Linked DNA regions of Homo sapiens. Changing the gene in region 1 together with any one later gene gives a genetic interaction. Each region holds a gene or a part of one and is shown in the gene's direction. Other genes may lie near its edges. The genes, in order: ITGB7 and MAP2K7.

Region 1 (3,521 bases):
CACAAGGGCCCCAACTTGCCCTCCCAGTTGTTGACAGGCCTAGCCAGGCCACAGGTTCGTTCCTGCATCTCTCCCTAGACACCCATCTTCTAGGTCAGAGCTGGAGAGGACTCAAGAGACTATCCGTTTTACAGGCCTGAGACCCAGCGTCTGGAGAGACTGTGCTCAGGCACTCTCTGGGCCTGGACAGCTGCCCTGGGCCTACCAACCTGGAACCTGCCCTGATGCAAGTCTCCCTGGACAAGACCTAGATGCCACTGTCCCTGGCTCCACATTCTGTGCCAACTCTCCTCTATTCAAATTTCCTTCCTTTGCCTCATGCTGCTACCATATCCTATACCCGGGCCTTCTTCCGCCTTCTGGAAGTTCCCATTTGCCCAGGAAGTTGTGTCCTCCTCTTAATGTCTTCTACCTGCCACTTCCCTGAGCCAGTGGTCTCACTGCTTTGCTTGCCAGTTACCAGGTCCCTGCCCCCTAGGTGCACCCTCTCCCATCACCGTCCTCCCCACCCCACTTCCCATAGAGCGCTCTCATGGGTCCTCTGTTGCTGCCCTGCGACTTCTGGCACAACCTTCATTCCTCTCCTCTCCCAGGTTTTGGTTCCTTTGTGGACAAAACGGTGCTGCCCTTTGTGAGCACAGTACCCTCCAAACTGCGCCACCCCTGCCCCACCCGGCTGGAGCGCTGCCAGTCACCATTCAGCTTTCACCATGTGCTGTCCCTGACGGGGGACGCACAAGCCTTCGAGCGGGAGGTGGGGCGCCAGAGTGTGTCCGGCAATCTGGACTCGCCTGAAGGTGGCTTCGATGCCATTCTGCAGGCTGCACTCTGCCAGGTGAGGAGGTGGGGCGGGGATCTGAGCCTGGAGGTCTGTTTGGGAACAGGACTGCCCCTTATGGTTGTGTAGTGCACAGTTCTAGGGGGTGCCATTCATACCATAGTTGCTGTAGTTTGTATATTTAGCAATTACCTGGTGGGTTGGAGTAAAATATCTTGAGGAGGAGGCATGTTTTTCGAATTCACAAGTAAGCCTCCACTAGCAGCAGCCTTCTTTAGGGGGCTGGAGAGAGCAGGGAGAAGCAAGGTACTGGAGGCAAGGGGATGGACAAGCTGACTCAGAGTGAGGCTGGCCACATTCTTGGCTCACAGAGCTGGCTGGGGTGGCTCAAGGGCCATGCCCAGGTGCATAGCCTACCACCCCCACTGTAACTCAGGAGCAGATTGGCTGGAGAAATGTGTCCCGGCTGCTGGTGTTCACTTCAGACGACACATTCCATACAGCTGGGGACGGGAAGTTGGGCGGCATTTTCATGCCCAGTGATGGGCACTGCCACTTGGACAGCAATGGCCTCTACAGTCGCAGCACAGAGTTTGTGAGTCCCTATTGTCACCCTGCCTCTCCCCATTTCAGCCACACCTCTTTCCTTCCAGGACTCCCACTCCCAGCCTTACAGTCCTCACCAGTAACCACCCTGTAGACACCCTGCCATCTTCTCCAGCAGTTCCTCCTTTCAGCTGCCGAGACAGGACACCTTTGTCACCCCATTCCCTACCTCCTTCCTATTCCATAGCAAGCCTCCAGGGCTCCTCCAGCTGGTGGAACCTTGGTTCCTGGATTCCCTGGGCTGAGGGCACCTTGCATGTTGTGGGGGAAACCTGTGGGGCTCACCTTGTCCCTGCTCCCTGTCCCAGGACTACCCTTCTGTGGGTCAGGTAGCCCAGGCCCTCTCTGCAGCAAATATCCAGCCCATCTTTGCTGTCACCAGTGCCGCACTGCCTGTCTACCAGGTGAGAGCTGTCTACATGTCAGATCCCCCAGCCCCATCCCAACCTTTCTCAATTCCCCCAAAGATACATTCTCCGTCCCCCATATGCCCTCCTTCCAGACCTCCGGGAGCCCATTTTCCTAGAGCTGTGACCCACCATTTCCCTTAACTCCCCAAAACTCAGGAGCTGAGTAAACTGATTCCTAAGTCTGCAGTTGGGGAGCTGAGTGAGGACTCCAGCAACGTGGTACAGCTCATCATGGATGCTTATAATGTGAGGGGCCAGGGGAAGGGGAGATGGTGAGGGTGGGCACTAGGGAAAGGTGGAAAGGGGCCCTTGGGTGGGGTGGCAGAACTAAGAGGAAATGGTCACTTTTTGGTCTAACATTCCACAGCTCCTACCTATAGTCTGCATGTGGCTGTCATTAACTGTTCAATCTTACATTCATAAATCTTAAAACATCTGACATGCAGACAGCATGGAGCTCTGCTCTGGGCAAGAAAGGAAAGTTTCAATCACTGAGCTTTTATTTCATGCGCCCACCATCCTAGGTGTACATACTGTTTGCTACTTCATTTAACCCTGCCAAAAGCCTTGCTTCATAACTGTTACCATCCCTATTTTACAGATGAGGAAACCCACACAAGGAGGCTAAGTGACTTGTCCAAGGTCACAAAGATAACAAACAGAAGGGCTGGCATTTGTCCCCAGTCAGTCTGTACATAAACAATGTGAGATCTGGAGCCTGCTTTCACTAAGTTTATAAATAATTCAGAGCTATTCTTCACAAGAACCATAGAATTTTACAGGTAGAAGGAACCATAAAAATTCTTAGTGGTTTAGGTCTTACCTCTGCAACTAGGCTGTAGGCTTCTTGATAACAGGGAGCATCTCCTAAACCTATGGCAAGAAAATCTGAGACAGTATCAAATTTCCCAAGATAAACTCTGTAATGAATCTGCCCTTTAGACCTGGCATGCACCCAGGTTATGTGTCCTGATGTGGGGCTTCACAAACATGGTCTCTGTACATTTACAGCACCTGGCCAGCCTGTGACCCTCAGTGGCCCTTGCTGGCAGCTGCACTGAAATGCTGTATTAGAGGCCTCTGGATCCTGTATGTTCTATGCAAGGTTCTCACGGGTCCTCCCTCCAGAAATGCCTCGACTGGGCAGAATGGAAGGAGCCCCAGGTGGCAGAGGGCAGGGTGCTGGCAGAATTGGGAACACCTGGAGAGGACATAAGGTGGGGTTGGAGTCCTTTTCTGCCTTCACGTGGTTATCCACTCGCTCTCTTCCCATAGAGCCTGTCTTCCACCGTGACCCTTGAACACTCTTCACTCCCTCCTGGGGTCCACATTTCTTACGAATCCCAGTGTGAGGGTCCTGAGAAGAGGGAGGGTAAGGCTGAGGATCGAGGACAGTGCAACCACGTCCGAATCAACCAGACGGTGAGAGCCAGCAAGCACAGGCAGAAGGCGGGCAGGGGGAGGTGGGAGTGGGAAATTAAGCAGGCAGGAAAAGATGGGTGGCAGGTACAGGGAGTGACATGAGAGCCTGAGGTAGTCCTCCATCCATCCTTCCTGGAGCAGTCTGAGTGGCTTCCTCAGGCATGTTTCTAGGAGTTGGGTGTTAACATGACCCCATCCCTTCATTTACTAAGGGGTGAGGTTCTGGATGATTGGTGAGTTTGGGGTATGTGTGTGTGCATGTGTATAACCATGGCCTGATTCCTGCCTCTTCTCAGGTGACTTTC
Region 2 (3,807 bases), on another chromosome or scaffold:
TAAAAATACTAGAGATTAGGCCAGGCACAGTGACTCACACCTGTAATTCCAGCACTTTGGGAGACCGAGGCGGGTGGCTCACCTGAGGTCGGGAGTTCGAGACCACCCTGACCAACATAGAGAAACCCCGTCTCCACTAAAAATACAAAATTAGCCGGGCATGGTGGCACATACCTGTAATCCCAGCTACTCGGGAGGCTGTAATCCTAGCTACTCGGGAGGCTGAGGCAGGAGAACCGCTTGAACCCGGGAGGCGGAGATTGCAGTGAGCTGAGATCGCACCATTGCACTTCAGCCTGGGCAACAAGAGCAAAACTCCATCTCAAAAAAAAAAAAAACATAAAAGATTAGGTGGAGGTTGCAGTGAGCTGAGATCGCGCCACTGCATTCCAGCCTGGGCAACAGAGCAAGACTCCGTCTCAAAAAAAAAAAAAATTTAAAAAGCGTCTTGAAGGAGTTGGGGGGGGAGAGAAGACAGGGCCGCCAGGGCTCTGAGCGCAGCGCCAGCCTGTGTGGGGCATGCAGGCTGTGCCCCACGCCTGTGTTGGGAGAGAGAGTAGATGGGGTGCCTGGCCCTGTGAGTGGTTGTGAGTATGTGTGTCCGAGGGCAAGGGGGACTCTGTCCCGGCTGCATGGGTGTTAGGTCCACGGCATGCCCCGGGTGTGTGTTGTGCGTGCGTGCACTTGCACGGCATGTGCGTGCATGTTGACATGGCAGCCGGTGCACCTGTGGCTCCTGTCGGCAGACACGTGCCCTCCAGCCTCTCGCTCTCTCTCATCCGTTCTCTTTCTCATCCTCACCCTCTTGCTCTCACTCCACCCTCCTGAGCTGCCATGTGGCCATCACCACCTCTGTGGCCTCTGTTCTCAGGGCCTTTGTGTACCTCCTTCCCCCAGTGCCTACCTGAACCCTCCCTTCCATCCCCCCATGCTCCAGTCTGTGGTCCGGCAGCCTCCTCCCCAGGCTCCGGGGCCACCCTCGGAAGGCCTGGTGGGCTCTGTCAGGGAAGGGGCCCACAGGACTCCTCGAGGGCTGTGGTCGTCAACCGCTGAGTGCAGGGTGTGAGCGGGACTCGGATACTCTCTGAGGGCGGGAACTAGGCAGTGTCTCAAGAGATGCCAGGTGCACAGGGGTTGGGGGCTGGGTTGGGGGGAGCACAGGCCCTCGGGAGCCAGAAGGGGACTGGGGCTGTGGCTCAGGCCATGGACAGAGCAGAGGCGCAGGGACCTGAAGAAGCAGAGGGAGAAGCCTGGCCAACATAGCGAGACCCCATCTCTACTCAAAAGACAAAAATTAGCTGGGTGTGGTGGCGTGTACCTATAATCCCAGCTACTCAGGAGGCTGAGGCAGGAGAATCACTTGAACCTGGGAGGGGGATGTTGCAGTGAGTTGAGATCACGCCACTGCACTCCAGCCTGGGTGACAGAGCGAGAACCTATCTCAAAAAAAAAAAAAAACAGTGGGAGGTGACGTGGTGCTGCAGAGGCGGCAGTGGCCAGGACAGCGGGAGGGGCACGGGAGGTGAGGCCTCTAGGCCAGTCATGAACGCTGGGCCTGGCTGTGTCCCAAGGTCCCCAGAGCCCTTCCCCTGCTCCTGCCTGGTCCTCCAGGAGGGGAGCTAGGGGGCACAGCTCCTGCAGGGGCTGGCAGGACCAGATAGGGGCAATGCTGGGCCTCCTGCATTGGGACTGAGGCGTCTTCCTGCCCCTCCTACTGGCTGAGATCAGGGTCCTGGGCACACGGGAGGGACGGGGTTTAGCTGCCAGCATGGAGCGGGTTTGTCTGTTCATATTAGTCCCTGGGCACCAGTCACCAGGAGCCTGCAGAACTGTGGGGAGAAAAGGTGGACGAGGCAGGAGGAAAAGAGGGGAGAGGGGCTTGTTGGCTGAGGGCTTTGGAGAGCGGCAGGCCCCAGCTCCTGTGGGAGGGGCACCTTGGTAGGTGTGTGTAGCCGTTGTCAGGGCCTCTAGGATGTGACGTGTCAGGATTGGCTCCTCTGGAGGCCACGTTAGCATCCCGGCCTCTGTTCCTGCACCCTGTTGCCAGCCCAGCCAGGGAGACCCTAGCTCCTCCGGGAAGCTGCCCTCCTGTCCCAGGCCCCTCTCTGGCCTGTCTCTGCAGCGCCTCCTCTGGGCACCTGGGCCCTAGTCTTGGTTCCTGTCTGTCTGTCTGTCTCCTGCCCTCCCACCCCTAATGCCGCCTGCCCACCCCAGGGTGCCTGCTGCCTGCCCGCCGCCTGCCCACCCGCTGTAGCATGCCCGAGCTGCCCGCATGCAGGCTGCTGGATGAGCCAACCCCCGCCTGGCCCAGCATTGGCCCCACCTGGTCCCGCCAGCCCCTGCAGGAGCTGTGCCCCCGAGCTCTCCTCCCAGAGGATGCAGGCCCCCTGAGGTCCTGTCCTGCCCCCATGGGCCCCAGCTCTGCAGGCCAGGCCAGGAGGCCCTCATGTCAGCCCACTGGCCCGAGGGGGGCCCTCCCTGACCCCGGAACAGAAGATAGGGCAAGGCAGCCTGAAGCCTGGGTCTCGTGCCCGCTGCCTCCCCAGCGTGGCCCTGCTCGCTCTTGTCTGGGAGCCAACTTCAGTGCTACCAGCAGAGCCACAGCCTGGGCCAGCCCTGGCAGGCACTCCGCCCTGGCCTATCCATCCTGTGGGTGCTGTGGCCCTGGGCCTGCTTCCTGGGCAGAAGTGGGAGGAAGTGCACACACCTGTCAGGGAGGCCCCCTGGCCGAGGGACACCTCAGGTCCCCATCTCGTTTCTCCGTCAGCGTAGACTTGGGGCTCCCTCTCCCCTGCTAGCCTCCTCCATCTCTTTCCAGGTCAGGGGATGAGACAAGGGACCCTGAGAACAGTCTGGGGTGGGAGGGAGACCCCAGCTCCTCCAGCCCAGCAGGGCAGGGGGCTGTGCCAGCCTAGCTCGGGAAACCCAGGAGGGGAAGGTGAGGGTCCCGACCCCTCCCTGGAGTGCCAGATGTGGAGCTGACACCAGCTGGGCGCTGACCCCCCTCCCTGCCACTGGTTCTCACCCCCCTAGCCCTGCAGCTCCCGCTGGCCAACGATGGGGGCAGCCGCTCGCCATCCTCAGAGAGCTCCCCGCAGCACCCCACGCCCCCCGCCCGGCCCCGCCACATGCTGGGGCTCCCGTCAACCCTGTTCACACCCCGCAGCATGGAGAGGTGAGCCAGGGGCCCAGCAGGGTTGGGTGGGAAGCAGCATTGAGGGGCCACCGTGCCAGCCCTGGGAGGAGGGTGGTTAAACCGGTGGGAACCCCGGTATGGGGGACTGGGGTGGCCAACCTAAGGTCAGGACCCACCTCCACCGGCACCTGCTCCATGTCCCCAGCATTGAGATTGACCAGAAGCTGCAGGAGATCATGAAGCAGACGGGCTACCTGACCATCGGGGGCCAGGTACCACCTTCACTGTGGCGGGGAGAGGGAGGAGGCCCAGCCAGGCTGGACCCATCCTGGGAGCGCCAGTGGGGGGCAGGGGGCGGTGGCAGAGGCCCCAGGGACCCTCCAACCCTCCCTCTCCTCCCAGCGCTACCAGGCAGAAATCAACGACCTGGAGAACTTGGGCGAGATGGGCAGCGGCACCTGCGGCCAGGTGTGGAAGATGCGCTTCCGGAAGACCGGCCACGTCATTGCCGTTAAGGTGAGCCTTGGCGGCTACCCCGGCTGCGCCCCACACCCCAGGCCGGTGCTGAGGCTCCCTCCTGTCCCTGCCTGTGCAGCAAATGCGGCGCTCCGGGAACAAGGAGGAGAACAAGCGCATCCTCATGGACCTGGATGTGGTGCTGAAGAGCCACG

Evidence for each region.
Region 2: changes in ITGB7 (region 1) and MAP2K7 together harm fitness more than expected from each alone (negative genetic interaction), as found in Homo sapiens cells (one large-scale study listed by BioGRID).

The regions. Positions count from the first base shown.
Region 1 is NC_000012.12:53,193,893-53,197,413, reverse strand, and holds part of ITGB7 (integrin beta-7 isoform a precursor), read left to right. Parts: intron 1-593; coding exon 594-835; intron 836-1,214; coding exon 1,215-1,373; intron 1,374-1,692; coding exon 1,693-1,788; intron 1,789-1,950; coding exon 1,951-2,040; intron 2,041-2,271; exon of another isoform or gene 2,272-3,069; coding exon 3,070-3,216; exon of another isoform or gene 3,217-3,512; coding exon 3,513-3,521. UniProt on the Homo sapiens protein: Integrin ITGA4/ITGB7 (alpha-4/beta-7) (Peyer patches-specific homing receptor LPAM-1) is an adhesion molecule that mediates lymphocyte migration and homing to gut-associated lymphoid tissue (GALT).
Region 2 is NC_000019.10:7,906,722-7,910,528, forward strand, and holds part of MAP2K7 (dual specificity mitogen-activated protein kinase kinase 7), read left to right. Parts: intron 1-3,033; coding exon 3,034-3,175; intron 3,176-3,341; coding exon 3,342-3,408; intron 3,409-3,538; coding exon 3,539-3,652; intron 3,653-3,731; coding exon 3,732-3,807. UniProt on the Homo sapiens protein: Dual specificity protein kinase which acts as an essential component of the MAP kinase signal transduction pathway. Essential component of the stress-activated protein kinase/c-Jun N-terminal kinase (SAP/JNK) signaling pathway.